Linked DNA regions of Homo sapiens. The protein of the gene in region 1 purifies or fractionates together with the protein of each later gene. This does not show direct contact. Each region holds a gene or a part of one and is shown in the gene's direction. Other genes may lie near its edges. The genes, in order: FRMPD2 and PKN2.

Evidence for each region.
Region 2: the proteins of FRMPD2 (region 1) and PKN2 purify together in Homo sapiens (affinity purification with mass spectrometry; 3 studies listed by BioGRID and IntAct, with this or other methods). This does not show direct contact.

Annotation. Positions count from the first base shown.
Region 1 is NC_000010.11:48,260,078-48,275,730, reverse strand, and holds the start of FRMPD2 (FERM and PDZ domain-containing protein 2), read left to right. Parts: upstream 1-1,034; 5' UTR 1,035-1,163; coding exon 1,164-1,188; intron 1,189-15,653.
Region 2 is NC_000001.11:88,823,165-88,838,817, forward strand, and holds the end of PKN2 (serine/threonine-protein kinase N2), read left to right. Parts: intron 1-1,145; coding exon 1,146-1,222; intron 1,223-5,316; coding exon 5,317-5,459; intron 5,460-9,579; coding exon 9,580-9,687; intron 9,688-9,912; coding exon 9,913-9,993; intron 9,994-10,080; coding exon 10,081-10,284; 3' UTR 10,285-13,091; downstream 13,092-15,653. UniProt on the Homo sapiens protein: PKC-related serine/threonine-protein kinase and Rho/Rac effector protein that participates in specific signal transduction responses in the cell.

The DNA of each region.
Region 1 (15,653 bases):
CTCACTATTGGCATATGAGAGTACTCATTCTCCATGCCCTCACCAGCACTGAGTTTCATCAGATTTTTTTTTCGAGACAGAGTCTCGCTCTGTCACCCAGGCTGGAGTGCAGTGGCCCGATCTTGGCTCACTGCAAGCTCCGCCTCCCAGGTTCACGCCATTCTTCTGCCTCAGCCTCCGGAGTAGCTGGGACTACAGGCACCCGCCTCCAGGCCCAGCTAATTTTTTGTATTTTTAGTAGAGACGGGGTTTTGCCATGTTAGCCAGGATGGTCTCGATCTCCTGACCTCGTGATCTGCCCGCCTTGGCCTCCCAAAGTGCTGGGATTACAGGCATGAGCCACTGTGCCCGGCCTCAAATTTTAGTATTTTATTCTGTAGTCAGGCAAAAACTCATGTTTTCTTTTTAAATAAATACGTCTCAGTTTTGACACTGCTATTGATTTAAAGGGCTTGAGAGATCTGTTCTTTTGCCCCTTCTACTACAGAGCTATGATCTACTTCTTGCTGTTCCCCATCTCTGCTGGTTCCTTTCTGAATCCAAGCACCAGAAAGAGTAAGAATTCCTTTCCCCCTTTCTCTAACCACATTTTTCTTGCTTTCTCACAGACAGATCCAGGTTATCATTTCCTCCTGCTGCTTTCACATGGTTCCCTGTCCTGTTGGTTGCAGGTCCAATGTCTGACACTATGAAAGGGCATGGAGGACTCTTGAGTTGATGACACTAAGCCTCTGCTCTGGGGCTGCCCCCAGTTCCTTGCAGAGCTCTTTCTTTTGATTGGGCCAGGAGATAAAGAGACATCAGCGTAAAAGCCCTGCTGAGCAGCAATCCCATTGCCTTCAGTGGCACCTAATCCACTTGAGCTCTTCCTGGCTCTCTCACGGGTCACTGGCTTTGAGGACGCAGGCTGCTGGGGTGGCAGTGCCTGCTAACAGGCCAGAGACTGCGCAGGACCCAGGGAATGAGAGTGGTGGCAGGAAAGGGAAGGGGCCTTGTTGACTCACTCGCTGGGCAGCAAGTGCTTAGTGACAAGCAGTAAACAAAGACAGCGGCAACAGTGCTGGTGGCAGGGAGCTCCGCGGACAGACTTGCAAGAGACCCCTGCTCCTTGTTGGAAAGTTGTCCCATGATGAAGGCCTAGACCTGGTCACGGAGACTTTTGGATGCAGCCTTTAACGAAGGACGCAGGTATTCCTTGGCATCATTCAGTTTTCTCCTATAAATCTGGTCAGGGAAAGGGCAAACTTCTTACTGGGTCTAGGTATCCGGAATAAGAAGAACACAGCTGGGCAAGGACCTGTGTCAGTGCCCTTTGTGGTATTATTTGGAGTATTATTTGTTCCAGGCCATTGGCTAAGCCTGATAGACATTGTATTTGTTTTTTAGCAATAAAGAATGGGCTCAGAAGAGAAAACATGGACTTTAGAATCAGACCACCCCTTGTTTGAATCACTGCTTTGCTATTCAGCATCTGTGCAAATTCAAATGACTCTTTTAACTTTCCTAAGACTCGTTTTTCTTACCTGTAAAATGGGGATAATAATGCCCCATGCGTTACGATGTTGCTGAGGATTCATGGGGTGACACGCGTAAGGCACTTAGAACATACTTGGAGCATTTGAGTAGCCCAGTAAATCATGGCTGTCACTATCTTTCAGAAGCAAGTGTTTTGGTTATTGCTTAAAGAGTATCAGTGGTTTAAAGTAAGAAGACTCAGGGTATGCCTAGCTGACTTCCAGAAAACAATGGAAAAGAAATGATTCACCTGGCTTTATTTGTATGCTTAAAGGAAAGAAAAAACTCAGTTGAGGTTTTCAACAGTGTAAACAACTTTTTTTTTTTTTTAAAGCAACAATTGAGTTCAGAGATGAGTCGTGTCTATTTCTCCTGGCTAAATCCTGTGATTTGCTATAGGCTGTAGCTGAAACCAATTAAGTAGTTCATTAATTCAACGAGAACTTACTTGGTATCTCCTGGGGCCACATGCCAAATGCTGGGGATGTCTCCCCCAGCCCAGAGGATCTTCCAGGTTGTAGGACAGTGGGGGTCGGGGGGCAGAATGCTGGACCTGCATGAAAACTGGCGGTGATAGCAAGTGCCGAAATGGAGGTGGCACGGGCTCCTGGGAGAGGTGTTGCTTGAGCATGGCTTTAATGCTAAGCGAACACTAGCAGGAGTTGGGAGCAGGGGGATTGGAAAAGGCATCCCAAGCAGAGAAAAGCACATGCAAAGGCCCAGTGGCATGAATAAGTAAAGCATGCTCTGGGAACAGCAGGCAGTTTGGCCTAACTTTAGTAAAGTGGGAACAGGGGAATCTGATAAGAAAGGAGGCTGCAGAGGTGAACAGGGGAGAGCAAGGAAGGCCTTCTATGGCCCAGAGTTCACTCAGAAGGTCCCAGATAGGCACTGGTAGTTTTAATGAAGGATGTGTCGTGTCTGCATTTAATATTAAGAAGATTAATCTAGTAGCAATATGGGTGTGGGATTGGAGAGGATGAAACCTGGAATGATGACAGATGGCCTAACCTAAGAAAACAACAGTGGAATGTAGAGAAGGGGAGGTCTCCAAGCTGGTGCTGCCAGCACTGTGAGCAAAAACAAATACATATGCATCTAATAAGTTCATTATAAATTTTACTGATATGAAGGATGTATATTGCACAATTTACAAGTAATAAAATATAAAATACTCTTTATTACAAATTCTATATAGCCATTTGATTCTCACAGCATGCATTTGTTGATTTTTGCTGAACTCTTATACCCTTGGTCAGCCTGTTTGCAATTGACCACTGAATGTAGTTCCAATATGAATGTTGGTTGATATTTTTGTTTACATTGACAAGTAAGAAGAAAGTGAAACAATGAAGATGATTGTCTTAACTTCACTCATCTGTCAATGACATGAGTGACTGCTGGATCAGATCATAGTTTTTGAATTTGGAAGAGTGTTTTCCCAATTTTTGTGTTATTCACAATGTAACAACTATGGACGCGACACACTTTTAGGTTTAATCTGCATGAACATTTTCTCCATCACTTTCTTAGTTTTCTTAGGGAATGAAAAAACAGCAAACCAAGCCCTAATTTGTAGCTTTTGCCAATTTTTGTGGTATAAATACTACCACCATGGCCAATCACAAGCTCCCAATGTGATATCGCTGAACACAAAGGTGGAAGGGCTGTGCACCAGCACACCATTACACAGTATTTCCATCATAGAAATGTATTTCATTTAAATAAGTTCCAAAGCACAGACAACAGTAAAATGCAGTAAAATAATTTGGAAATGGTGAGTTTCAACATATTGTTAATATAACTTATTTAATTGGAGATTTTTATAATACTTTTTGGTAATGGCTGTGTTTAATGACCAGCTTACAAAATTTCTGGAAATTTAACAATTGGCTCTCACAGGCCAGTAGGAGCCTTCTTCAGCATATCACAGAATCCAAGAAAGGTTTAAGGAGCAGAATACAGAGTGGTGAGAAAATGACTCATGGGTGCAAATGAAGGGGGCACGAAGGAAGAATTAGGAAGAATACTTCCTTCTCTCTGGGGATGAAGCTGTCACTCACCAAAATGTTGGACTTATTAAAAAGAACACCATGAATAGATGACTATGAATTCAACTGCTCAGGAATAGCAAGGGCTGCGGTGTGCAGCCCAGGACAATGCTACCTGCAGCTCCATTAGTGAAGTCATTTCTGGTCTGAAACCCCAGTTTTGCTGGCTTGTCTCTAGCCTATTCCCTGCCCTCTCCATATACTCAGGATTCATAATATGAATAGCTAGGATTTATTGAAAAACTGCCATATGCCAGACACAATAACTCATGGTATAAACGAGTAAAGAGAGGAAGTAACTTGCCCACGGTGAGGTGGGATCAATCCAGCTCTGACCTCGGAGCCTGCTCTTCCAGCCACTATGCTTTTCTATTCTCATTCCCCTCCTGAATTGTATTCACCCTGAGATATCAGTGTTTTTAGCTGCTTTCCTGGCAGAAGTCTGCTTTCGAGGCTGATTCCTATTCCTCAGGCTTCCTTTTACTGGTCGCTGGCAGCTCTACTGTTAACTGCCCTCCCTTTTTTTTTCTTGCCTTGGCTGTAAGCCTCCTTATTCCTGTATTTGCTTGAGCTATCATAGCCCAACATTGTTGGAAATAGAGTAGGTAGTGAAGGGAGGCAGGAAGGAGATGTGTAGGATGGTGCACAGGAACCAGTTCCAGGAGGGCTGGTGCCAGGCAGGAGGCAGATCAAGGCTGAGCTGTCAGAACTCACTCTTCAATAGATTCAAGATGGGTTAAACAGTGTCTGGCTGGAGAGTAAATGTATTAGACATTTTAAAAAAGTGCCATCTAGGAATTTCTTTTGTTTCTTCTATCAGTATCATTTTTGTATGATGCCAGTCCAGAGTGCAGGCAGCATCTGAAGTATTCACTTGTTAATTTACTGAGTCATTCAGCCAGTGGGGGAAGAAGGAGCTCCAGATGCGAGTGTCCCCACAGAGCCTGCAGAAGGACAGGAGGCAAGGGGGTTGTGGTGCGTCTAAGGCTGGAAAAAGGCCATGGGGGAAAGAGGAAGCTGCTAGAGATCAGTCCAAAGCGGTGGGCCTGAGGTCCTGCAAATCTTGCTCAGGATCTGAGCTGATCCTTTGGAGAATAGAAAGTGGCTGAAAGTTTTCACGAGGTGTGACATGGTCAGATTTGTGTTTTAGGAAGAGGACTCTGCAAGACAGAGAATGGATCAGGGCAGGGGCAAGGTATGGTTGTAGGAAACCATTTTGTAGAATTTACATTTCAGTGGTCATTCAGGGGAGGGTGCTGGTGGCTTAGACCAGGTCAGTGGTGGTGGGGTTGGAGAGAAACAGGCGGATTTTAGAGAGATTTTGGAGATGGTGATTAACGGGCTGGGAAGTTGAGGGATGGGAAGGAGACAAAAATGTCGTCTGAATGTTTGGCTTGAGGGGTTAGGTGGTGGGAATGCCATTTGCTGTATTCAAATAAGAGAGGTTGAAAGAGGAGGAGGTGGGGGGAAGGTGAATTCAGCTCTCTACATCTAAGGGGGTTGTCTAAAGGACATCCTGGGATCACCAAGCAGGAGCTCAAGAAACGGGTCTGAGCTTAAGACATGGCTGTGGAGGGGATGGACTGATGGTTGGTAACTTTGGAGCATGTAGAGTGATTTGAAGAGGGAGCCAGGGCAGAGAGAAACCCAAAGACCACTGACATTTGGCATTGCCTTTATTCATTGTTACAAATAATACCATGGCAAATATCTTTGAATATACATCTTTGTCAATTATGTTCTTGGCATCAATTCCCAGAAGAGGAAGACCCTGATGGCAGGAATGGACATCCCTTGGCTTTTGATACAGATTGCCAAACTGCTTTACAAATCAGCTGTCGCAAATTGGCCACACATAAGTAAGGTCTCTGAGAGGAACAGTGTCATTGCCACCTCATGGGCACTGAGCGCTCATCATCGAAGCCCACTTGAGGGATGAAAATGGGCCTCGAGACCACGTCCACTAGCAGCTCCTTGGATTATAGGCAGGAGTGGACAGTTTTTCCATATTGTTTAATAAGGAATCACCGTTTCTTTTATGACTTTTCTTAGTCTCACTTTCTCAATTACCTACTGCTGTTGGGCCCATAAGATTTTTCTCTCTGATTCTTTGCACAGAAATAGTCACTTTCGGTTTGACCTTCATCCCTTATCCCAGCTGGCTGTATAGCTCTTTGTAGATATCACTGTGGGAAGCAACTTCCTGACTCAGGGCCTGAGGAGGGGTATGTGGTAAATAAAGCCCAGGAGAAGAGCTTGAGACCAGAGTCCTCTCCCTGAAACCACTCGGAGTGGGATTCTGGACAAGCCTTCACCCTCACACCTTGGCTGTCTCCCATTTCCCATCTGTGCTACAGCAGGTCTCCTGGGTCTGTCAAGTGTGAGTTAAGGACCCCCTCTTCACTAACCAGTATTTTTAATGGTCTGCTCTGGATGGATTAATTTGACTGAATGAAGCTGCTTCACTTCTAGAGGAAAATTTTTAAACAAAGCATTCACCCAGTGGGGTTTGTGACAGGGCAAGCCACTTCTCAACCTGCATTAGGCTGGGAACCCACGGACGGCCTGGCCCTGCCTGAGTCCCATCAGCCAGAGGTTTATCCCTCAATCATCACTGCAGGAGGAGAGAAGGCTATGCTCTCCGTGAAGGGGGAACTCTCAGGCCTGTTCAGCTTCTGCATCCCTCTGAAGGCTGCATTTCAGTGACGCTGGCCACCCTTGTACTAGGTACCACCTGCCCCACCAGCAACATCCACATGCAACACGCCTCTGTGCATCCTATTTCCTATATGCTTAGAAATGTTCCCTAGGAGGCAGAGAATTGGCATTGCTGGGACTTGGCAAATACATGTTCTCAATTTTGATAGATGGCTCTGAAAAATCTATACCAATTTAATTCCCATGTTAATGGGTGTTATGAGAGGGCCTGGTCTGCAGCCCCCACCTTGCTAACATCAAATATTTAAATTTTTGACCCTCTTGATAAATTCTCATTGCTGTTTTGTTTTCCCTGATTTACTAGAAACACAGCAAATCTTTTCAAATATTTATTGAGTAGTTGTATTTTTTCACCTGTTTATTTCTTAACTTTTAAATTAAAGAGTTGTTTTTTTCTAATTGATGAGTAAATAGTAACCCTTTTGCCATTATATATATTTTCTCCTAATCTGTTGCATATTTTTGTTTACATTTAATTTTCATATATGGTCAGATAAAAAGTTGCAAAGAAGTTGCAAAGAGCACAGAGAAGTCCCTATACTCTTCCTCCAGTGTCCCCCAGTGATTATATCTTACCTAACTACAGCACAATGGCAAACCCAGACATTTGACATTGGTACAATATGTGTGTAAAGTACTATGCCATTGTAATACTTGTGTAGATTTATGTAACCACTACCACAATCAAGATACAAAACTATTCTATCGCCACAAAGATCTCCCCCAGCTCCCATTCTACTCCCTACCACCCTGCTTCTACTATCTCTGAGATCAGTCTCACAAGCTGTGACCTTTTGAGACTGGTTTTTCTCATTCAGCCTAATGCCCTTGAGATCTAATCAAGCTGTTGCACGTATCAATAGTTTGCTCTTTATTGCTGAGTAGTATTCCATGGTATGAATATACCACAATTTGTTTAACCATTCACCAAATGAAAGACATTTTGACTTAACAGTTTTTGGCTATCACAAATAAAGCTGCTATTACAAATAAAACACACACGTTCACATGCAGCTTTGTGTGTGGATATTCATTTTTTTTCCTCTGGGATAAGTGCACAGAAGCACAATTGCTCAGTTGTATAGTAAGAGTATGTTTAGTTTTTCTCTTTTTTAAAAAGAAACTGACAAACTCTTTTCTGAAGTGGCTGTACCACTTACATTCCCACCATCAACTTAGAAGAGATCCAGTTTCTCTGTATCCTCATAAGCATTTGGTATTGTCACTTTATTTTTTTTTCCTGTCATATAGGTGGGGAGGGATATCTCATTATAGACTTCATTTGCCTTCCCCTTATGGCCAGTGATGTTGAACATCTTGTCATGTGCTTATCTGCGATGTGTGTATCTTCAGTGAAATGTCTTTCCATGCCATTTGCTCATTTTTCTAATTGGATTGTTTGCTTTCTGCTGTTAAGTTTTGAAACTTCTTTGTAGACATCCTACATGTGAGTACTCCATATTAAGCATGGCACCTAAACCTACTTTCTGCCTCTATGGATTTGTTTATTCTGGATATTTCATATAAATGGAATTACACAATGTGTAGGCTTTTACATCTGGCTTCTTTCACTTTAGCATAACGTGTTCAAGGTTCATGCATGCTGTAGAATGTATCAGTACTTGATTTCTTTTTATGGTTGAGTAATGTTCCATTGTATGGATGGACCACATTGTGTTTATCCATTCATCCCTTGATCGACACTGAGTTGTTTCCACTTTTTGGTTATAAATAATGTTGCTATGAACATTCACATATATTATTTGTAGAAATATCTATTTGAGTCCTTTGCCCATTTTGAAATTGGATTGTTGGTGTTTTTGTTAAGGAATTGTAGGAGTTCTTCATGTATTCCAGTTACTAGACCCTTATCAGATTGATGATTTGCCAATATTTAATATTTTCTGCCATTCCGTGGATTGTCTTTTCAGTTTCTTGATAATGCCCTTTGATACAGAAATGTCTTTTGATGTCTGTTGTCCGATTGGGTCATTTCTCTTGTTCTCTTCTCAATCCGTGGATTCTCTACTCAGTCTTCTCCATTCTGCTGTTGAGCCCACCCATAGTGTTTCTAATGTTGGTTATTGTATTTTTCAGTTCTAAAATTTCCATTTGGTTCTTTATATTTCTTTGTTGAGCCTTTCTATGTCTTTGTTTTTATTGTGCTTGTCATTGCTCACGAAAATCCTGGTCAGATAATTCTGACATCTGAATCATCTTGGTACTGGCTTCTGTTGTCTTTTTTACTCAAGTTGAGATTTTCCTGGTTTTTGATATGATGAGCAATAGCGACTGAATCCAAGATGTTTGGGTACTATGATATGAGACTCTGGACCTTACTTAGAGCTTCATTTTTAGCAGATGTTCCCTGATACTGTATGGACAGAAGGGCTCTGCTTCATTACTTCCGGGTAAAAATGGAAGTCTAGACCCCCCACTCAGTCTCTCTTGATAACCTTGAGGGCATCTTGTTGTGACTGTTCTGGCTCCCCTCTAGTCCTCTGCTGACACCACCCTTGCTAGGAGGGTCGGGGACACCTTATTACTGCTCCTCATGCAACACGTCAGGGGATGCCTTGTTACCACTGCATGGTGGTAAAAGTACTGACCCTCTCTTACACCTTCCCTGGCACCACCCCCGTGGGGAGGCCAAGGGGCATCTTGTTATCACCAGAGGAAAGTGGAAGTCTAGGGTGTGACGCAAGTCACCACTAGGTGGGAATGAGAGTTTCAGCTCCCACTTGGCCTTCTCTGAACTGACTGTGTGGAAGAAATGACTGTGCCTCATTGTAGCTGGATGAGTGTAATGTCTGGGCTCTCCCTAGGCCCTTGCTGACTATTTGTTGAAAAGACTATCTCAAGACTAATTGCCTTTGCTCCTTTGTCAAAGATCAGTTAAATGTATATGTATTGGTCTATTTTTTGACTCTATTTTGTCCCTTTAATCTATTCGTGTATTCTTTCACCAACATCACATTGTCTTGATTAATATACCCTATAATAACTCTTTTTTCTCTTTTTTAAATTGAAGAATGCATATTAGAAGTTTTTATTTTTTATTTTACTTTTTAAACTTTTATTTTAGGTACAGGGGTACATGTGCAGGCTTGTTATATGGGAAATCTCGTGTCACCAGGGTTTGTTGTACAGATTATATTATAAACCTGGTACTAAGCCTAGGACACAATAGTTATTTTTTGTGCTCCTCTCCCTTCTCTCAGTCTTCATCCTCAAGTAGGACCCAGTGTCTGTTGTTTCCCACTTTGTGTCCATATGTTCTCATCATTTAGCTCCCATTTATAAGTGAGAACATGCAGTATTTGATTTTCTGTTCCTGTGTTAGTTTGCTAAGGATAATGGTCTCCTGCTCCAACCATGTTCCTGAAAGGGGCATTATCTCATTCTTTTTTGTGGCTGCATAATATTCCATGGTGTATATATACTACATTTTCTTTATCCAGTCTACCATTGATGGACATTTAGATTGATCCCATGTCTTTGCCACTGTGAATACTGCTGCAATGAATATACACATGCGTATTTCTTTATGATACGACGATTTATATTTCTTTGGGTATATACCCAGTAGTGGGATTGCTGGGTCAAATGGTAGTTTTGGTTTTGGCTCTTTGAGGAATTTCTACACTGATTTCCACAATGGTTGAACTAATTTACACTCCCACCAACAATGTATTAATATTCCCTTTTCTCTGCAACCTCACCAGCATCTGTTATTTTTTCTTTTTATTAATAGCCATTCTGACCAGTGTGAGATGGTATCTCATTGTGGTTTTGATTTGCATGTCTCTAATGATCAGTGATATTGAACTTTTCTTCATATGCTTATTGGTTGCATGTATGTCTTCTTTTGAAAAGTGTCTGTTCATATCCTTTGCCCACTTTTTAATGGGGTTGTTTGTTTTTTTCTTATGAATTTCCTTAAGTTTCTTATAAATGCTGGATATTAGACCTTTGCCAGATGCATATTTTACAAATATTTTCCCCTACTCTGTAGGTTGTCTGTTTACTGTACTAATAGTTTATTTTGCTGTGCAGAAGCTCTTTAGTTTAATTAGATTCCATTTTTCAAGTTTTGCTTTTGTTGCAATTGCTTTTGACATCATCGTAATAAAATCTTTGCCAGTGCCTGTGTCCAGAATGGTATTGCCTAGGTTTTGTCTTCCAGAGTTTTTATAGTTCTGGGTCTTACATTTAAGTTTTTAATCCATTTTGAGTTTATTTTTATATAATTGTTTAAGGAAGGAGTTTTGTTTTAATCTTCTGCATATGGCTAGCCATTATCCCAGCACCATTTACTGAATAAGAAGTCCTTTCCTCATTGCTTGTTTTTGTCAGCTTTGTTGAAGATCAGATAGTTGTAGGTGTGTGGCCTTATTTCTGGGCTGTCTATTCTGTTCCATTGGTTTATGTGTCTGTTTTTGTACCAGTACCAAGCTGTTTTGGTTACTGTAGCCCAGTAGTGTAGTTTAAAGTTGGGTAGCTTGATGCTTCCTGCTTTGTTCTTTTTGTATAGGATTGCCTTGGTATAGTAACTCTTGAAGTTGGATAGTTGGATCAGTCCTACAACTTTGTTTCTCTTCGTCAGTATTGTGTTGTCTGTTCTAGGTGACTTGTTTTCCCTTTTCATTTAAACTTTAGAATTAGTTGTTGATATTCACAAAATAAATTTCTGGGATTAAATCTACAGACCGAGTTGAGAATAAATGACATTTTAACAATATTGAGTCTTCTCTCAGTGAACATAGAATACTCTTCCTTTATTTAGATTTTAAAAATATTTAAAACAAATATTTTTATTTCTTTCATCAGAATATTGTAGTTTTCCTTATAGGGATCTTATACATATTTTGTTAGGTTTATTTCTACATACTTCAAAATTTTTTGGTGTTAATATAATAATTGATATTGTGTTTATAATTTCACATTTCAGTTGTCATTGCTGATGTTAATTAAAGTCAAAACAGTTGAGTTTTGTGTATTAGCCTTTTGTCCTGCAATGTTTCTATAATCACTTATTAGTTTTAGGAGGTTTTTTGTTCATTATTTGAGATTTCATACATGGACAATCATATCATCTCGGAACAGAGATAACTTTATTTCTTTTTTTCTAATTTATATACCTTTTATTTCCTTTTCTTGTCTGATTACATTAGCTAGGACTTCCAATGGTGAGAGGGGACATCTTTGTATTTTTCCTGATCTTAGCAGGAATACATCTAGTTTCACACCCTTAGGTCATGTGTTGGCCGTAGATTTTTTTTTTTACATATTTTAAAAAGATTAAGTCGAAGAAGTTTCTTTCTATTCCTGGTTAACAGAGAGTTTTTAATCATGATTTGCTGTTGGATTTTGTTAAATGCTTTTTCTGTATTAATAAATTTGATTATATAATTTTTCTCTTTAGTCCATGAAAGTGGTGGGTTACATTAATAAATTTTCACACCAGCCTTGCATACCTGAATTAAATTTCACTTGGTCATGGTGTATGATTATATTTATACATTGTTGGATTTGATTTGCTAATATTTTGAAGAGTTTTGCATCCTTGTTCATGAAAACTATTGATCTGTAGTTTTACTTTCTTGCAAGATTTTTATCTGGTTTTGGTATTGGGACAATTATGGCCTCATAGAATGAATTAAGAAATGTTCCCTCTGCTTCTATTTTCTGGAAGAGATTGCAGATAATTAGCGTCATCTTTTCCTTAAATGTTTGGTAGACTTTAACAGTGAAATCCTTTGGGCCTGGTGCTTTATGTTTTGGAAGGCCATTAATTATTAATTCAATTTATGTAATACGTATAGGCATACTTAGATGATCTATTTCTCTTTGTATGAGTTTTGATAGATTTTCACTTTCAAGGAATTGGTCCGTTTCATCTAAGTCATTACATTTGTGGGCATATTATCCTTTTTAATATCCATGGGATCAGTAGTGATGGCCCTTATTTCATTTGTGATTTTAGTTATTTACATCTTCTCTCTTTTTTTTTCTCTCTTGGTTACTTGGCTATGGGTTTATCAGTTTTGTTGTTGTTTTCAAATAATCTGCTTTTAGTTTTGTTGATTTTCTCTATTGTTTTTCTGTTTTCAATTTTATTGATTTCTGTTCTAATTTGTTATTATTTGCTTTCTTTTATTCAGGTTCATGCTGTTATTTTTTCTGTAGTTTACTAAAGGTGGAAGGTTAGATTATTAATTTTAGATCTTTCTTCTATTCTAATATATGCATTTAATGTTAGAAGTCTCTGTATAAGTACTTCCTTCATTGCATCTCACAAATTTTGGTAACTTGTATTTTCATTTTTGTTTAGTTAAAAATATTTTTTATTTTATCTTGAGATTTCCTTTTTGACCCATTTGCTGTTTAGAAGTGTGTTGTTTAATCTCCAAATAGTTGAGGATATTCTGGCTATCCTTCTGTTATTGATTTGCAGTTTGGTTCTACTGACAGAACCAAATCTCCATGAGAGAAATCATACTTTGTATGATTTCTGTACTTTTAAACTTGTAATCTCAGCTACTTGGGAGGCTGAGGCACGAGAATTGCTTGAACCCAGGAGGTGGAGGTTACTAGTGAGCCAAGATTGCACCACTGTACTCCAGGCTGGGCAACAGGGCAAGAACCTGTCTCAAAAAATAAATACATAAATAAACATAAATAAATAAATCAATAAAGTTTATGGCCCAAAATGTGATATATCTTGGTGAGTGTTCCATGTGAAACTGCAAAGAATATGCATTCTGTTGTTGTTGGATAAAATAGCCTACAGCCATCAACTAGATCCAGTTCTTTGGCAGTGTGTCTAGTTTAACTACGTCTTTACTGATTTTCTGTCTGCTGGATCTGTTAATCCCTGATAGAGGGGTGCTGAAGTCTCCAGGTATAATAGTAGATTGTTTATTCCTCCTTGCAGTTCTACCAGTTTTTATGTCATGTATTCTGATGCTCTGTTGTTAAGTGCATATGCATCAGAGATTGTTATGTCTTCTTGGAATATTGACCTCTATCATTATGTAATACCCCTTTGTATTCCTGATAATTTTCTCTATTCTGAAGTCTGCTTTGTCTGAAGTTAAGATGGTTACTCCAGCTTTCTTTTAATTTGTGTTAGCATAGTATATCTGTCTACATCCTTTTAGTTTTCTTAAAATTAATCTTTTTATTCTTCCCTTTACTTTTAACCTATTTGTGCCTTCATATTTAAAGGGGATTTCTTCTAGACAACATAACTGGGTTTTATTTTTTAATCTACTCTGTCAGTTTCTGTCTTTTAACTGGCATACTTAGACCTTTATATTTAAAGTGATTATTGATGTTGTTAGATTAATAGCCACCATATTTATAACTGTTTTCTATTTGTTGCAATTGGTTTTTGTTTCTTTTTAAGATCTTCCCGTGTTTTTCTGCCTTCTCTAGTTGTAATTGAGCATTTTATATTATTTTGGCATGTAAGTTATACTTCTTTTAAAAAATATTTCTAGTAGTTGCTCTAGAGTTTGCAGTATACATTTACAACAAATTTAAATCCACTTTCAAATAGCTCATGTGTAGTACAGGTACATATTACAGAGTAATACCCGTTTCTCCCTTCCAGCCTTTATAACTGACTGGCATTTATTTTACTTATTTATAAGGCATAATCACCCAAGATGTTGTTGCTATTATAATTTGAAAAACAGTTATCTGTTAGATCAATTAAGAATAAGGGAAATAAATGGCTTAAGATCTGAGTTTCTCTTCTGTATCATTTTCCTTCTCTCTGAAGAACTTTTAAAATTTCTTGCAAGGCAAGCCTACTGGTGACCAATATACTCAGAAGTTTTGTTTGTCTGAGAAAGTCTTATTTCTTTTCACTTTGAATGTTAACTTTGCAGTATACAGAGTTCTAGATTGGTAGTTTTTTTATTTTTACACTTTAAATATTACGTCCTACGATCTTTTTACTTGAACAGTTTGTGAAGAGAAGCCCATTGTAATTCTTATCCTTTTTCTGCTATATATGTAAGTTACATTTCTCTCTCTCTCACTTTTTTTTGCTGGGGAATATTAATTTACCATTATTTTTGCTTTTTTAACTTTTAAGTTTAGGGTTACATGTGTTTTTTTTATTTATCTTGCTTGATGCTTTCCAAGCTTCCTAGATCTGTGGTTTGGTGTCTGTTATCAATTTTGAAATATTCTCAGCCATTATTCAAATTTTTTCTATTCTTTTCCACCTTCTCCTTCTGGTATTCCCTTACACATATGTCACACCTTTTGAAATTGTTCCACAGTTCTTGGATATTCTGTTCCATTTTTCTTCATTCTTTGTTTTCTTCACATTTCCATTTGGGAAGTTTCTACTGACACATCTTTAAGCTCCTTGATTCTTTCCTTGAAGGTGTCTAATCTACTGGATGAGCCCACCAAAGGCATTCTTCATTTCTCTTGCAATGCTGTTGATTGCTAACTTTTAAGAAATTTTCTATTTTTAGAATTTCCATGTCTCTGCTTACATTTTACCCATCTATTCTTGCATCTTGCCCCACCTTTTCCATTTGAACACTTAGCATATTAATCATAGTTATTTTACATTTCTGGTATGATAATCCCAAGATTTCTGCTATATCAGAGTCTGGTTCTTTCACTTGTTTTATCTCTTTAAACTGAGTTTTTTGTTGTTTTTATACATGACTTGTAATTTTTTGTTGAAAGCTGGACATGATGTATGGGGTAATAGGAACTGAGATAAACAGACCTTTAGTGAGAGCATTTATGATTATCTGGCTAGTAGTAGTGCTGTGTTTACTGTTTGCTATAGCTGTAGGTATTATAATTAATTTTATGTGTCAATTTTAATGAAGCCATGGGCTGCCCAGATGAAATGTTATTTTGGAACGTGTCTGTGAGGGTATTTCTGGAAGAGATCAGAGTTTGAATTGTGCTATGGGCAGGCATCATATAATCTATTCAGGGCTGTAATAGAACAAAAGACACAGGAAGGAGACACTCATCCCTTTTTTCCTACCCAGCTTGAGCTGGGACATCTCATCTCATCTCCTGCCCTTGGACTGGGATTTACATCATTGGCTTCTGTGGTTGTTAGGCCTTCAGACTTGGACTGAATTATACCATTGCATTTCCTGGGTCTTCAGCTTGTAGATAGCAGATTGTAAAACTTCTCAGCCTCTATAATATATAAGATATCTATCTATATCTATCTATACATATATGTATATAGATCTATCTATCTACATATATATATAGATCTATCTATCTATCAATCTATCTATCTATTCTTAGCCATTATTACCTTAAATGTTTCACATATTTTTCTACTCTTTTCCATTTTCTCCTTCTGGTGTC
Region 2 (15,653 bases), on another chromosome or scaffold:
AGCCGTGATTATGCCACTGCACTCCACTTAGACAACAGAGTGAGTACCTTGTCTCACAAAAATAAAAAATAAATTGAAAAAAATGGATAAAATATTGTCAGTTTGCCTAATTTGTAAACAATTAGTATGGATGGATAGCTTTCTCTTATTCTTTCAGAAGATGAAACCTGCCCTCTGATGCCTTATTAATACTGTTAACTTTACAATTCTTTCTTATGGATGGTATATAAGCAAACTTTAAAACTGGATTAAGTTGGCCAGGTGCAGTGGCTCATACCTGTAATCCCAGCACTTTTGGAGGCCGAGGCAGGTGGATCACCTGAGGTCAGGAGTTCAAGACCAGCCTGGCCAACATGGTGAAAACCCATCTCTACTGCAAATAAAAAAAAATTAGCCAGGCTTGGTGGTGGGCACCTGTAGTCCCAGCTACTTGGGAGGCTGAGGCACGAGAATTGCTTGAACCTGGAAAGTGGATGTTGCAGTGAGCCAAGATCACACCAGTGCTCTCCAGCCTGGGTGACAGAGTGAGACTCTGTCTTAAAAAAAAAAAAAAAAAAAAAAAAAGGCTGGGTGTGGTGGCTTACGCCTGTAATTCCAGCACTTTGGAAGGCTGAGGCCAGCGGATCACGAGGTCAGAAGTTCAAGACCAGCCTGGCCAAAATAGTGAAACCGCCTCTCTAATAAAAATACAAAAGTTAGCCGGGTGTAGTGGCACGCGACTGTAGTCCCAGCTACTCGGGAGGCTGAGGCAGGAGAATCGCTTGTACCCGGGAGGCAGAGGTTGCAGTGAGCTGAGACCACGCCATTGCACTCCAGCCTGGGTGACAAAGTGAGACTCTGTCTCAAAAAAAAAAAAAAAAAGGATTAAATTAGATTATCACAAATAACAAATTAAATACATTTTTCCTTTTTTATGTAACAGGAGAAGAATTTCTCATGAGCTACCTTATATAGAGTAATAAACTTACCAAAAGGAAGAAAACTGAATGTTTGTGTTATAGTATTTAAATCTCAAATCATAACTTGGAAATCCCATTTTTAATAAAGAGAAAACACAGTTCCAATTGCAATTATTTTTTTAACTGTATAACCTACTGATTTCTTTGATTTTTTTTTTTCATGCTGTATCTTTTTATCCTGAACAGAGATTTGAAATTGGATAACTTATTGCTAGATACAGAGGGCTTTGTGAAAATTGCTGATTTTGGTCTTTGCAAAGAAGGTAATCGAATGTTTTTAAGTTTCTTTTCTGATTCAGAATTACTGTTTCTTTGTGCATCAGTAGTTTTCAAGTTTGTCTATGGAAAACAAACTGTACTTTTAACTTTATTCTTCATTAAGACATTGTAGATACAATGAAAACATTGCTTATATAACCTAATTATCACATTAAGAATTTGTTCTCTGAATACAAATAAGGTTAGATGTATAGAAATCATAGTAAGCTTCTCTGTGTGATTAATAATTTTGTCACTACTTTAAGGAAGTATTGATTAAGCACCAAAATCGTTTATTCTGGTGAGACTGTACACAGTGAATTTCATAGGCCTGATAATTTCCTTCCAGCTTCTTAAAGTTGAAACATTTAAAAATAGAAAATAAATAGAGATAGGTATCTCATGTATGTTTTTTGTATATTCAAAAGTAAATAAGTAAATTGGGGAAATTTGAATCAGAGGTAACATAAGAAAGGATAAAGATCATGGGCTTAGGCACTAAACAGTTCTAGGTTTGAATCGTGGCTTTGCCACTATTTGCTGTTTGTCTTTGGAAAACTTAGTTTTAACCTCTTTGAGTCTTATTTCCCCAATTATAAAAAAATGGACATAGTTCTTTCTGTTTACTAGTTACTAACATTCTCTATCTCCCTCTGCACTGGTGGCTTCTGTTTGCTATTTAGCTTTGTTTCCATAGTGCATAACACAGTGCATGGTACATCTTAAGTATTCAGTAAGTGTTTGATTAATAAGTAGTTGGATGAATAAATGAATGAACTCTGTAGATATATGCCCATCACATACCCACTGACCTAATTGCTGAATCAAGTAAGTTTTTTCTTGACTGGGCTTCTTTTTATTGGACACTGTTCCTCTAAATGCTTTTGTTTCTCAGCATCTCTCCTTAGCCGGCTGCTCTTCACTGCAATTTTTTGACTAGCAGCTATATCCTAATGACTCCCAAATCTATTATTTCCTTTCCTATGGATTCCAAAGATATATATTCAACTGTCTACTAGACAGCTCTGCCTGAATAGTGAAGAGACACCTCAAACACTACCCAAACAAAAATCATTTATTTTCCGCCGGTAGTCTGGGTGTTGGTATCACAATCCCCTCAGCCTTCAATCTGAAAGTAAGGAATTATCTTGCGTTCTATCCTGTTCTCTACTTCCCGTATGTAGTTATTCACAAAATTCTACTGCCACTTAACCTCCTGAATATTTCTGAAATCTATCATTTCCAGTCAGCTCCTTTCACCCATTATCTTGTTTTGACAAGACAGGTATAATAATCTCCTAATTGTTCCTATTTCTAGTCTTTTTCTATCCCAAATCAACCTGCCATGTAATTGCTGAATTGCTTAAGGAGTCCATATAAATACAGATCGGACCATGGCACATACCTGCTGAAAACTCTTCAGTGGCTAGGATAAGGTGACATACAGTGCCGTTACTGATCTGCCTGCCTTCCTCTCTGGCCACATCTCTTGCTGCTCTCTGTTTAGTACTTTTTGCTGCAGCAACAATGAACTGCTTATAGTCTGTGTCCCTCTAGCACTGTCACCCATCCCAACTCTATTTGCTGACTAACATCTGCTCATCCTTGTCATTCAACTCAAGTGTAACCTCTACAGGCAAGTTACCAGAGATTCCCTTTTACTACCCCAACTCCCAAGTCTGCTTTAGGAGCCCTTCTTCACTATTCTACCTTATCTTGCTCTTCCCTTGTTGTTATAAAATTATCAATAAATATCCATTTCCCTCCAGTCTCCTGTAAGCCCCTTAAAGACTGTGTCTTACTCTCGTTTTTATGTTCCCGCTACTTGACACAGGTGCCTAGAACATAAAAGGTGCAGAAAATATGTGTGTTGAATAACCAGACTTATTAATGCATTATCATAAAAACATGTTTAGTAGATTATATAGCTAACAACTTTTGAGTGCTTACCGTGTGCCAAGAATTTTGCTTCATATGCATATCTCCTGTAATTTATAACAATCGTATGAAGGTAGATAGTTTTTTTGGAGGAAATATTTTATTTTTTATTTTATTTTTATTTATATAAATTTATAGGGTAGAAGTGCAATTTTGTTACATGCATAAATTGCATAGTGGTGAAATCAAGGCTTTTAGGATATTCGTCACCCAAATAACATACATTGTACCTATTAAGTAATTTCTCATCATCCACCCCCCTTCCACCTCCTCACCCTTCTGAGTCTTCCTTGTCTTATCATTCCACACTGGTAGATGGTATTATTAACTCTCATATACAGATGAAGAAACCTAGAATTTGATGTTAGACAACTTTCCCAACCTCCCACAGTTAACAAATGACAGAACTGGAACTTAAACCAGGTATTTATTAATCTAGAGCCTGATATTAACCACTTCCATGGAGTTTTACCAGTCTACAAGAAACATAAGTTATATTTCTTCATTAATTAACTTTTTCCTAGTTTTCTCCAAGTTACTAAAAGGCTGGTGCAGAACTTACATAGATATTAATACTATATCACTGTTTTTTTAAATAATATTTTATTGAAGAAAATAAAAATCATTATGATAGTGTTAAAGAAATTTTGCCAAAAAAAAATTTCTCCACTCCAGTGTGCTAATGTATCTAATTGTGCCCTTCAGGTCTTGGTTCATAGACACACATTCATTTCTATTTTATAGTCACTATATATGCATACCTAATTATTCTTAATTTAGGATTGAGAGCTTTTCTTTAAAATTCTTAAAAAGATGACACTTATGACAAGTTTTTAACACTTTGGAATACATAGAGATAATATCTTCAATATGTAGACTATATATTTGATTAACATATTAATAAATTATGAGGAACATATATTTAAAAACTAGTTAGCCAAAATGTTAATACAGGCTGAGTATCCCTTATCCAAAATGCTTAGAATGAGAAATGTTTTGAATTTCAGATTTATTTGGATTTTGGAATATTTGCATATATAAATAATGACATATCTTGAGGCCAAGACCCAAGTCTAAACACAAAATTTATATATGTTTCATATATACCTTATACATAGCCTGAAGGTAAATTTATATAATATTTTTAATAATTTTGTGCATGAAACTAATCTTAAGTACTTGCGGAATTCTCTATGGCATCATGTTGGTGCCCAAAAAGTTTCAGATTTTGAAGCATTTTAGATTTTGGATTTTTGGATTAGGGATGTTCAACCTGTACTCTCCCTTCCCTCCCCTTCCCTTCCCTTCCCTTCCCTTCCCTCCCCTCTTCTCCCCTCCCCTCCCGTCCCCTCCTCTCTCTCTCTCTATATATAATATATATTGAGATATATATATGTTTTTTGTTTGTTTGTTTTTTGAGACAGAGTTTTGCTCTTGTCACCCAGGCTGGAGTGCAATGACACAATCTCAGCTCACTGCAGCCTCCGTCTCCCAAGTTCAAGCAGTTCTCCTGCCTCAACCTCCCGAGTAGCTGAGATTACAGGCGGGAGCCACCATGCCCGGCTAATTTTTGTTTTTGTTTTTTTTGTAGAGACGGGTTTCATCATGTTGGCCAGGCTGGTCTTGAACTCCTGACCTCAGGTGATCCACCCGCCTCGGCCTCCCAAAGTGCCGTGATTACAAGCATGAGCCACTGCACACGGCCCTATCTCTCTGTATTATATGACACATTTGGTCAGCTTCTGATTATCCAAGGGTTTGCTTTTTGGTATTTTTGAAACTTATTTTTTTTAGAATGTTGATTTTATAATGAAGTAAATAAACTTATTTAAGATTGAATTGGAAAGATAATGGAACTTCACAATCAGTTCATTTTGTTATAATTTCTTAGCTCCCTTGTAATGACAAGAAGAAAAAGTAACTGAAAAGAAACATGGATATCTTATTTCTATTTACCCATTAATTAGACAGTATAGTTGCTATTGCAGTTTTTGCTATACCAGTCCTTACTGTTTTCTTGAAATGTCTTAGATATGTCTGAATTTGTTCACCATGCACAAATGTGCAACTTTAATTTTGCCTCCCAAAGATAGCTTTGATTTTTTTTTTATGCTAGATTTGTTTTCTTTGCTAACAAATGTTTACATTTTATCTTTTCCAGGAATGGGATATGGAGATAGAACAAGCACATTTTGTGGCACTCCTGAATTTCTTGCCCCAGAAGTATTAACAGAAACTTCTTATACAAGGGCTGTAGATTGGTGGGGCCTTGGCGTGCTTATATATGAAATGCTTGTTGGTGAGGTAAGCAGTGTGAAATAGGTAAGAGAACAGAGGAAGGATGATTGAAATAATAAAGCATGTCATTTATAAAACCACCTAATACTGTCTTCAGTATGAGTGGAATTTAAGTTTTATAAATATTTATAGTATACTAGTAGTCAGCTATCTTTCTGTAATACCTTCAATAAAGATTTTTATGTGGTTTGTGGAATGCACTATCAGTGCTTTGAAAATAGTTCCTTGTATTTCAGTATTGTACTTTTATTATGTTTTCTGATTTTAAGACATAGTCATTTTATAGGGAATGGAATAACAGAAAGACTAATAAAAGGAATGTACTCTGTACCTGTAAAGAAAAGCCCACTATAGATTGGTCAGAAATAAATGTTACCTTCGACTTCCTCCAGACTTCCGTCTGAGCAACACACTCTGCATCCTTGCTTCACCGGGAAACTACTGAAGTTCCTGGGGAAGCAAAGTAGAATTTCGTAAGAACAAAATGGATGGAGAGAGGAGAAAACCTATGGTAGCTGTGAAGGCCCTGATGCCATGTATGTCAAATTGATATCATCCGATGGCCATGAATTTATTGTAAAAACAGAACGTACATTAACATCAGCACGATAAAAGCCATGTTGAGTGGCCCAGGTCAATTTGCTGAGAATGAAACCAATGAGGTCAATTTGAGAGAGATACCTTCACATGTGCTATCAAAAGTATTCGCTACACCAACAGCTCCACCGAGATTCCTGAATTCCCAGTTGCACCTGAAGTTGCTATAGAACTGCTGATGGCTGTGAACTTCCTAGATTGTTAAATAAAATATAATTTTAAAAAAATGAAAGAAGTGTTACCTTAAAAAATGGTAGAGTTGAAAAAATTCGCATTTTTTCCTACTGTTTTCTGTAGATTAACTTAAATTTCTGAGGATAATTGAGTTGTACATAGAAATTATTACTATTAGGAAACAGTGAGTTATGTTAAGGCAATAATAGGAGACTAATAATTTATTATGTTATAAATTGTTAGAAATGTTGAATTGGGATGAAATTGGGAAAGAGTAAATCTTTTAATAAGTAATTGAAGATTACTTGAAGGGACTTGAACTGGAGATGCAAGAAAAATTATTTTAAGGGATTGGTTCATTATTCTGCAGTTTCCCCATGCCAGCAACCTCCCTTGTACACTTGTAAGTTTGAAGAAGTTAGTGCTGAATGAACAAATTATCAAATTGAATATCAGAAATTTCTAAAGTTTTGTTCTATGCTTGTCATTTATTGGCACTTACCCCAAACAAATGGTTTTAGTTTCGCCGGATGGATAACCCCTTTTGGTATGTCAATTTGAAGTGGATTCCTTGGAAAAGGAGGAGAAGTATGGCTAATTAAAATTTATCATGTGCTAAGCACTGTACTGTATGCCTTAAATATTAGTTCATTTAATTTTGCAACAGCCTTTAATAAGCTCAGTACTGATCTTCTGCCCATTTTCGGAGGTGTAAATAGAGACACAAAGAGATTAATGACTTGCTTAAAGTCACACAGCTCTCATATGGTGGAGCTGGAATTTTAACCTTGTCACTCTGGCTCCAGAGCATATCTAAAGCATTATGCTTTGCTGCTCCAGGACAGGATCTTCAATTCATCCAGCCTTGTTTCTGTTCTTAAGACTAGTGGTCCAGATCTGAATTTTTCACCTCTATTTAGAAAAGCTGTTGTGCAGTGTTTAGGTTGGAAAGATTTATTTTAGCTCCAGTCCACAGTGGCTTTTACTTTCTGAGAGTGCCAGAAGTTCTCATAAAATAGTTAATCTGCTGTAAGCTCTGGCATACTTGAACTCCTCCCCACCCCCTTCCTTTATTTTAACAGTAACATTTTGGAGGGTTTTTTTGGTTTTGTTTCATGTAGTATTCAAGTAAGTATGAGATTTATGAGATTCAATTATGTGCTTGCTTAAAATTTACTCTCCATATTAGAGATGACATGTGCAAAATATGAGTTTATTACAAAATACTGTAGAATTAATCCAGTTGAATCTACTCCCTCCTATTATAAAGCCACTGGAGGGTTTGGCAGAAAACAAGGAAGCTCCTGTTTCATGTTTTTTAAAAGAGCTAATTGATTGAGCTCTTAATTACCTAGAAGATAAAAGACAGTGGATCTGGCTATTTCTTCACAGTTGTTTCTTGCAATTTCTCTTTAGTATCTCCACAAGAGGGTAGCTGGGAAAAGAACTAAACTTAAAACTCATCAGTCTACTTCATAATTTTATAGCATTAGTGAAATGCTAGTGATAACTCCTTTTTAACTATGATGAAAGTAAGGTGTGGCTAAAGTTTATGTCAGATTTCTCTATTATTACAAATAATTGTAAACTCACCGGATATATTATACATGTTCAGATTTGTATACTTCTACTAGTTTTGATTACTGGAAAGACTCCAGGAATAAACAAACATCGCAAGTCCCCTTTTTCCTGTCTCAGATGGGAGTGAAGATACCAGAGAGATTGAACAGAATGCTGGACATGGTTTTAGATACTGTCAGTGTTGACATCTGAACAGACTATTGGTTTCCTTTAAATGTGCTGAAAACACATTTGTTAGCTTTCAGTTGTTAGCCCTGTTTGCTTACAATCTATTTGCAGAAAAAAGATACTACATATTTTAACAAATGTATAGATATTTCTTTGCTGTTCAGACTTGTAGAATGAGTTTTCAAGTAAAAATTGTTCAAGCAGAAGACCAAAGTGCTGTCTTTGTATTATCCATTGAAATTCCCATTGAGAATCCTAGTAAAATAAAATTTTCTTCTGACTTACTGTTTCAGTCCCCAGAAGAAATTAGATTGTCCATGTAGTACATTTGATTTATGTATTTTGAGTGTACTACATTGTCCCACGTAGTATATTTTATTTATGTATTTTGAGTGAGTGAATGAACAAACTAAGGTTTTGGTAACTGTAAGCTTTGAAATTTTCTTAGCTGTGAGCAAGATTAGAAGCTCAGCCTTAAGAAGTTGGATTCTGAATTTATTTTCACAGATTCTTAAAGATTGCTCACTTTCCCTGGATATTGCTTTCTGCTTATTATTCTTTAAAACTTAATTGGAAGCAAGCAGCCAAATCAAATCTAACGAGGCTAAGTAAGCCTATATTTCTTCAATAGCCAGTGAGAAAATAAGGTTCAAGATACTAATTCATTTCAGTGATTTTAAGGAATTAAATGATATTTAGACATTTGTTTCCTGATTTAAAAAATGACTGAGTGATTTTTAAGCCATCTGAAATTCTGAGGCAGGCAGTCACATTTGATAGACACGTTTTTAGCATAGTTGAAAGTTTCTCTCTTTGTGAATCAAATTGTCATACTGAATATAATGTAACTACTTTTTTATGTCTCAGGGTCATTATGAAAAATGATTTTAATACTGAGCTTATGGAAATGCCCTAAAACTTTTTGTGTTTAGAACATTAAAAATGCCTGGCAATGTGTGCTTTTTGGGTTCCTTTCAGTCTAATTTTGTTGGCAGCTGCTTCTTAATACAGTCATTATGCTTGCTAATCCATGATTGTGTTTTACCACCATTAATTTACTGTTGACTTTAAAATCCAAAGCACATTTATATCTGATGTATTTCCGCAGATTGCCTTCCTTTATTATAACATTTATTACCATATTAACCTTATCCATTTTCTTCTGTTTTTCCACAAGATTGAGGTTCTTCAGGATTTATCTATTATCTAAATATTCCCTACTGTCTGTTAGACACTAAAAATTGACTGTCTGGCCAAATAGGTGATTGAGTGAATGAAATAAAATGGAATGGAGTGGAATGAAATTAAATGAAAAGTCATATCATATATGAGATAGACAAGTTTTTTATAAGGGTCTATAAAATTTAAAGATTTCAGAAAGAGTATATGGTGTATTCCCTCTGTAATAGATACATATCTGTTGTCACTTCTTATAGTTCTTTTGTTGTTGTTTTGGTAGGCATGGGTTTATTGTTGTTGTTGTTGTTGTTGTTGTTTTGTCTGTTTTTTCTTTTTCACTGCCTGGATCTTGGTTGTACTTTGAATGGGTGATAAGATTTTACTGCCTTAAAACTTGCTTTAACTTACTCAAAGGTATTTCTTCTAGTCTCCCTTTCCTGGTGATGATGAAGAGGAAGTTTTTGACAGTATTGTAAATGATGAAGTAAGGTATCCAAGGTTCTTATCTACAGAAGCCATTTCTATAATGAGAAGGGTAAGAATTAAAATAAGGATAAGAATTTTTTAAAGACTACTTTAATTTTTTATACTAAAGAAAATTTCCCAGTAGAACTTTAAAAGCTGTTTTTCAGTTCATAAATGTTGCATGGCTTAGACAAAAAAAGACAAAATATATCTAAGTTTTTTAAAGTAATAATCCTTATCAGTGAATTTTATTCTATTGGTTTTATTTTAACTTTTTTATTTTACATTATGCTAGCTGTTAAGAAGAAATCCTGAACGGCGCCTTGGGGCTAGCGAGAAAGATGCAGAGGATGTAAAAAAGCACCCATTTTTCCGGGTAAGTGTGACTATTTAAAATTTTTTATGAAACTAGAGCGATTAGATTTAACAAACTAAACTAGTCATTTTTTATTTTATGATCCAGCTAATTGATTGGAGCGCTCTGATGGACAAAAAAGTAAAGCCACCATTTATACCTACCATAAGAGGACGAGAAGATGTTAGTAATTTTGATGATGAATTTACCTCAGAAGCACCTATTCTGACTCCACCTCGAGAACCAAGGATACTTTCGGAAGAGGAGCAGGAAATGTTCAGAGATTTTGACTACATTGCTGATTGGTGTTAAGTTGCTAGACACTGCGAAACCAAGCTGACTCACAAGAAGACCTCTTAAAAATAGCAACCCTTCATTTGCTCTCTGTGCCACCAATAGCTTCTGAGTTTTTTGTTGTTGTTGTTTTTATTGAAACACGTGAAGATTTGTTTAAAAGTACCATTCTAATACTTCTTCAAAAGTGGCTCCTCATTGTACTTCAGCGTAAATATGAGCACTGGAAACAGTTTCATGGAGTTTAAGTTGAGTGAACATCGGCCATGAAAATCCATCACGAATACTTTTGGATCAATAGTCTATTTTTAAAAAGAAAGAAAAAAACCACTTTTTTATAGTCCCTAGCTTTGCCATATGCCCGCCTTAAGTGGAAGGAAAGTTAATCACTTAACTATGTTTTATAAAAAGAAAAAAGGGCTTGGAATGCTATTACTGTTCACACAAAGTATGATTCTGTTTGAATAAGGCAAATGCTCCTTTTTTTAAAAAAAAAGACATTACTGTAATATCAAAAACCGTGGCAGTTTGTATACAACTCGGGGCTTGATTTTTTTTAAAAAAACAGAATGAATTGATGTCTTATTTTATAAATGTTCTATATTTATTAGGAGAAAACTTTATATTGCCTTTTTTATCAATCATGTAACAGGCTTATAGCTTTCCAACAGAGCTGCTTGCCAAACAATTTTTTTTGTTTATTAAACAGTGCTGAAACAAACAGGATCAGCATTTACTTAAGATGTTAAGAATGAGGACTTTTAATCAGCCGAACCAAGATATTGTTACCTGTATGCATTCCCAAAGTCTAGATGCTCAGTATGTTCAGTCATATCTTTCAGAATCAGTGAACCGATTACCCTTTTTTTGGTATTCACTCTACATCTGCCAACCTAGTTCACCTTGGTTTTGTGTCTGCTGTAGAAGGGAACCATAACTTGGTTAAACCGTAGGGATTATCATTGTATACATGCTGTGAACATGTATATGTGCAAGTTTTAATGTATTCTATGTTGTAGGCTTATTATTTAATTTTACCACTTCATCACTTTTGTACAGTGGCCAAGCAGACACCTCAAACTCCAGCATTTACATTAAGTGCATTTGTACATTTTAGGCCACTGGATCCAGATTTTATATTGGCAGTTATTGAGGGCAAAAGCAATATATTGTAACAGAATGTATAAATATTTTTGATAAAACAGTCTATATTTTATTAAAAAATGAATTATAACACTAAAGCTGTACCTCAAAAGTCTCAAAAATAATTTGATGAAATATTTTATACAACTCTTCAAAGGATCCGTCTGTGGCTTTTTATACTCTTTTAGGGTTGTCTTTTTACAAACCATGACTTTCCACTTGCCTGTAGTTTTTTGTTTGTTTTGGTTTGGTTTGATTTTATATTTTTTTCTCCTAATCTATGACTTTATTGTTTTTTCTTAGTTTAGTAATAGCATCTTTGATCCTGTGCTTAGCATGTTAGGGTCATTATACCTCAGGAATAGCAAGCTGTTAAGTAACCATACTGAATTAACTATTTAATTACAGTGAGCTCATCTCTTAAAAATTGTTCAGGTGTAAATCTTATGAGAAACATGAAAAAGCACACTGATTTATGGAGAGTTGAGCTAAAAACATTTATAAATATTTGCTGGGATGTTTTAGCATCTTTTCATTGTACTCTGAGAACAATTAAAATTGTCCAGAGATCATTTATATTACCTTCCAAATTGTTTATTACCCAAGATCCTTTGGGAGAAAATCTTATAGAATGGGGGAACAATATGTGGTTTAAAGTTATTTTAAAATGCCAGTTAATTTCCTCGGCAAAGGACAATAGAGGAACTTAGCTTAATTGTCTGGCTTTAATTTAAACTGTGTTAATACAACATTAAAATAAAACACTAAATACTTTTGAGGTACAGTCTGCTCACTTTTTTGGTTCTCAAATAGCAAAGAAAGTAATGTCTAAAATAGGCTCTTAGCATTAAAAACTGACAGCATTTCGTAACTACACAGTGTACAGAATTTTTTTTTAATTGAAGTCAATCACTAAAAAAATTAGAAGGCAGGGTCTATTTACACAATTAAGCTGAAGAAAGCACTAATTTTTTGTAGTTTAAAATATATATATATTTTAGTCAGATTTAAAATTTTAAGCTTTATAGAGTGTAAATATATTTTGCTATTACTGTATGTGTATGTGACTGCTCAAGCACTTTGTAAAGAAATTAGGATATTTTAGAATGGTACACTATGCATTCAAATGAAATGTGCCTTTCACTATGTCATTCTAAGAAAACAAGTGTTTTTTGCAGTCATAAATTATCACAAATGCACAAATTAAAGTCTATATAGATTGAAATTTGTAACTTTGGTTTTAAGTATTCTTTCCTTTTAGAAACTTCCTAATGATTAAAATATACTTTAACTTTTCTGTGTTCAAAATCTCAAAGACTAATTAACTTTAATAAACATTCTTGCAAGTACTTTTTGTCCTAGTGAAGGCTTAAAACCATGAACATTCAGAGCAAACTGTCCACTTCATTGGGAATAATGGGAAAAGTTTGTATTCTGCTCCTGTAAGGTCAGTAGCATCTTTTATTTGAAGCATATTTATGGACTGCTTACTGTGTATAGATACTGAGAATAGGAAGTTTTTTTTTTTAAAGCAACAAAATGTTGATGAATGAAGAACAGCCTGTTTTAATTAAGATGCAAGCACCAGTATTGTATGTACTTTTCTCTTGTTTGAGGTTAGCTTATTTTAATTTAGGACCTGGCTTCTCAAAAAGGCAAATGAATAAAACAGAATACTAGTATTTTATAGTAATCTTACTTAAAAATTACAAATGGAATATTTTAGAAATATAAAATGATCCATGCTCTCCCTGTAACACAAATTGAGGACATAATGGAAATTGCAATCATATATTGACTTGGTAAATCTGCTGTACAGATTCAAGTCTAACAAGATTTTTGCAAGTACTGCCAGTATTCCCAAAGCCACTGAAGGAGTAAGTATGAAAAATCCAAAGAAGCAAATACTAATCCACAGATCATAACCTTAATTTAAATTTAGAATTCTTATTTACCTTCCAGCCATCTTTTGAGGTCTAGGGTTTTTCTGAGATACTGGCTTTATACATTAGTATGATGGGTAGAGGCTTTAAAGTTATTAAAAATAATATGTATACATATACATATAAAATTAGTGGAAGACCGTCAATAAGATACGTAATTTGAGGTATTGATGATCTCAATAAAGGTAAGAGTGGTCTCTGGCAACCCTTCACCCCAAAACAAGCAAACAAACTTGAGCAGAGTCTGGACAAGTTAGGGCTTCAGCACCTAAGAGTTAGAGTGGGAGTGCTCAAGCACAAAAGTAGGAATATTGAGAGAACTGGAAGCTGAGTCTACAGAGTATGGCAGAGTAGCAGGAAGTTGGAAAAGATAGGAGTCACAATGGCAAGGAGCAGGTTTTGAAAATGCAGGCACCCAAGAGAAGTGGGGTTACCAAGGATAGATTTCTCTAGCAACACAATTTTGAGGATAGCAAACCTTGCAATAGCATCAGGACTTATCTTCTGTGCTTAAATCCTGTAGACGAGTTCATATTTTAGTTTGCATGTCACTCTTTCCCTGACAGTGGAAGGAAATATTCTCTGGATGGAAGCTTCTCCAGGTTGGGACTATCAGATTCCACAGATTAAGATCAAGTAATTCACTGTCAGAAATCCCTAACCACATGCGAGAGACAGCAAGTTACCTTGAATAAGAACCAACAGAAATATTAAATTTAGATATCCCTGTCAGAGATTTCGTACATTAGAATTATCAGCCAGGCACAATGACTCATGCCTGTAATTCCAACACTTTGGGAGGCCAAGGCAGGAGGATTGCTTGAGGTTAGGAGTTTGAGACTAGCCTGGGTAACACAGCGGGACTGCCTCTCTACAAAAAAAAAAAAAAAAAAAAAAAAAAACATATAAAAATTAGTCAGGTATGGTGGTGTGCACCTGTAGTCCCAGCTACTTTGGAGGCTGAAGTCAGAGGATTGCTTGAGCCCAGGAGGTCAAGGCTACAGTGAGCTGTTATGCCACTGCATTGTATTTAGCCTGGGTGACAGAGCAAGTCCCCAACTTAAAAAAAAAAGAATTACCAGATACAAGTTATAGAATAGCTATATATAAAGTATATATACATATATATACCTAAAGCTATCAGTATAAACATGTAAAATGAACATTTTAACAAACATTTTTAAAATCCAAAAATGAAAAATGTAATTGTTCTAATATGAAATTCAGTGGAAAGATTAAACAGCAGATTAGACAGTTGAAGAAAACTGAAGATTGGAAACTGAAAAGTCAATCCCAAATGAAGATGGGAAATATAAAAGGGAGATTAAGAGATACGGAAGATGGAATGGAGACTCGAGGAAAGAATGAGAGGCAATATTTAAAGACATAATGGCTGCAAGTTTCTCGGAGATGAAAAATATCCAAGCAGTACAATATTTCCCAAACAGGATAAATATAAATGTATGCGTAGAACCATTGTGAAATGGCAAATCACCAAAGACAGCATTTTGAAACTATCCAGAGAAAAGGGACTAAATGTCTATAAAGGAAAGACACCAGCTCACCTCTCAATTGCAACAATGCACGTAGTGGAATATTACCTTCAGAGTGTTGGGGAAAAAAAGGTTAACCTAGAATTACATAAAAATAAAATAATTTTCGTAAGAATTAGGGCATATAATATGTTTTAAAAGGGGAATGCTTGCTGCTTTAATGGACGTTCTGAATAATGTGCTTGAAGTAAAAAAATGATCCCAGAAGGGTAACACAAGATAAAAAAAGGTTTGTGATAAGTAAAATGGCAAACACCTAGGTAAATCTAAATAAACCAAAGAGATAAAAGAAGGAATTACTGGATTTTGAATTTTTTTGTTTTTTCTAAGCACAAATTCTAGATAGCAGTAGCAGGAAAGTCAGGATAGTGAACACCAGAGCTACAGTATTGTGTAGTCTTTTTATTGTTGGAATGTTAAGGTATTGATTAACTTTAGATTTTAGGTTCACTGTGAAATGCCAAGGCTATTCACTATAGTGACTATAAATTCTAAACCAAAAGACAAGATGGTAGAAATTAATCCAAAGCACAATTAATGTAAATGGAGCAAACTCACTAGCTAAAAGCAGGATTTATAAGATTAGATTTTAAAAAGAAATCTGGTGGTATGATGTTTGCAAAAAGATACATCTGAAATAGAAGTATATGGAGAAGCTGAAAGTAAAAATATGAGGAAAAATATGTGATGCAAAATCCACTCAAGCTAAAGCTCTGGTAGCTTCACCTAATATCAAAGTAGATTTTAG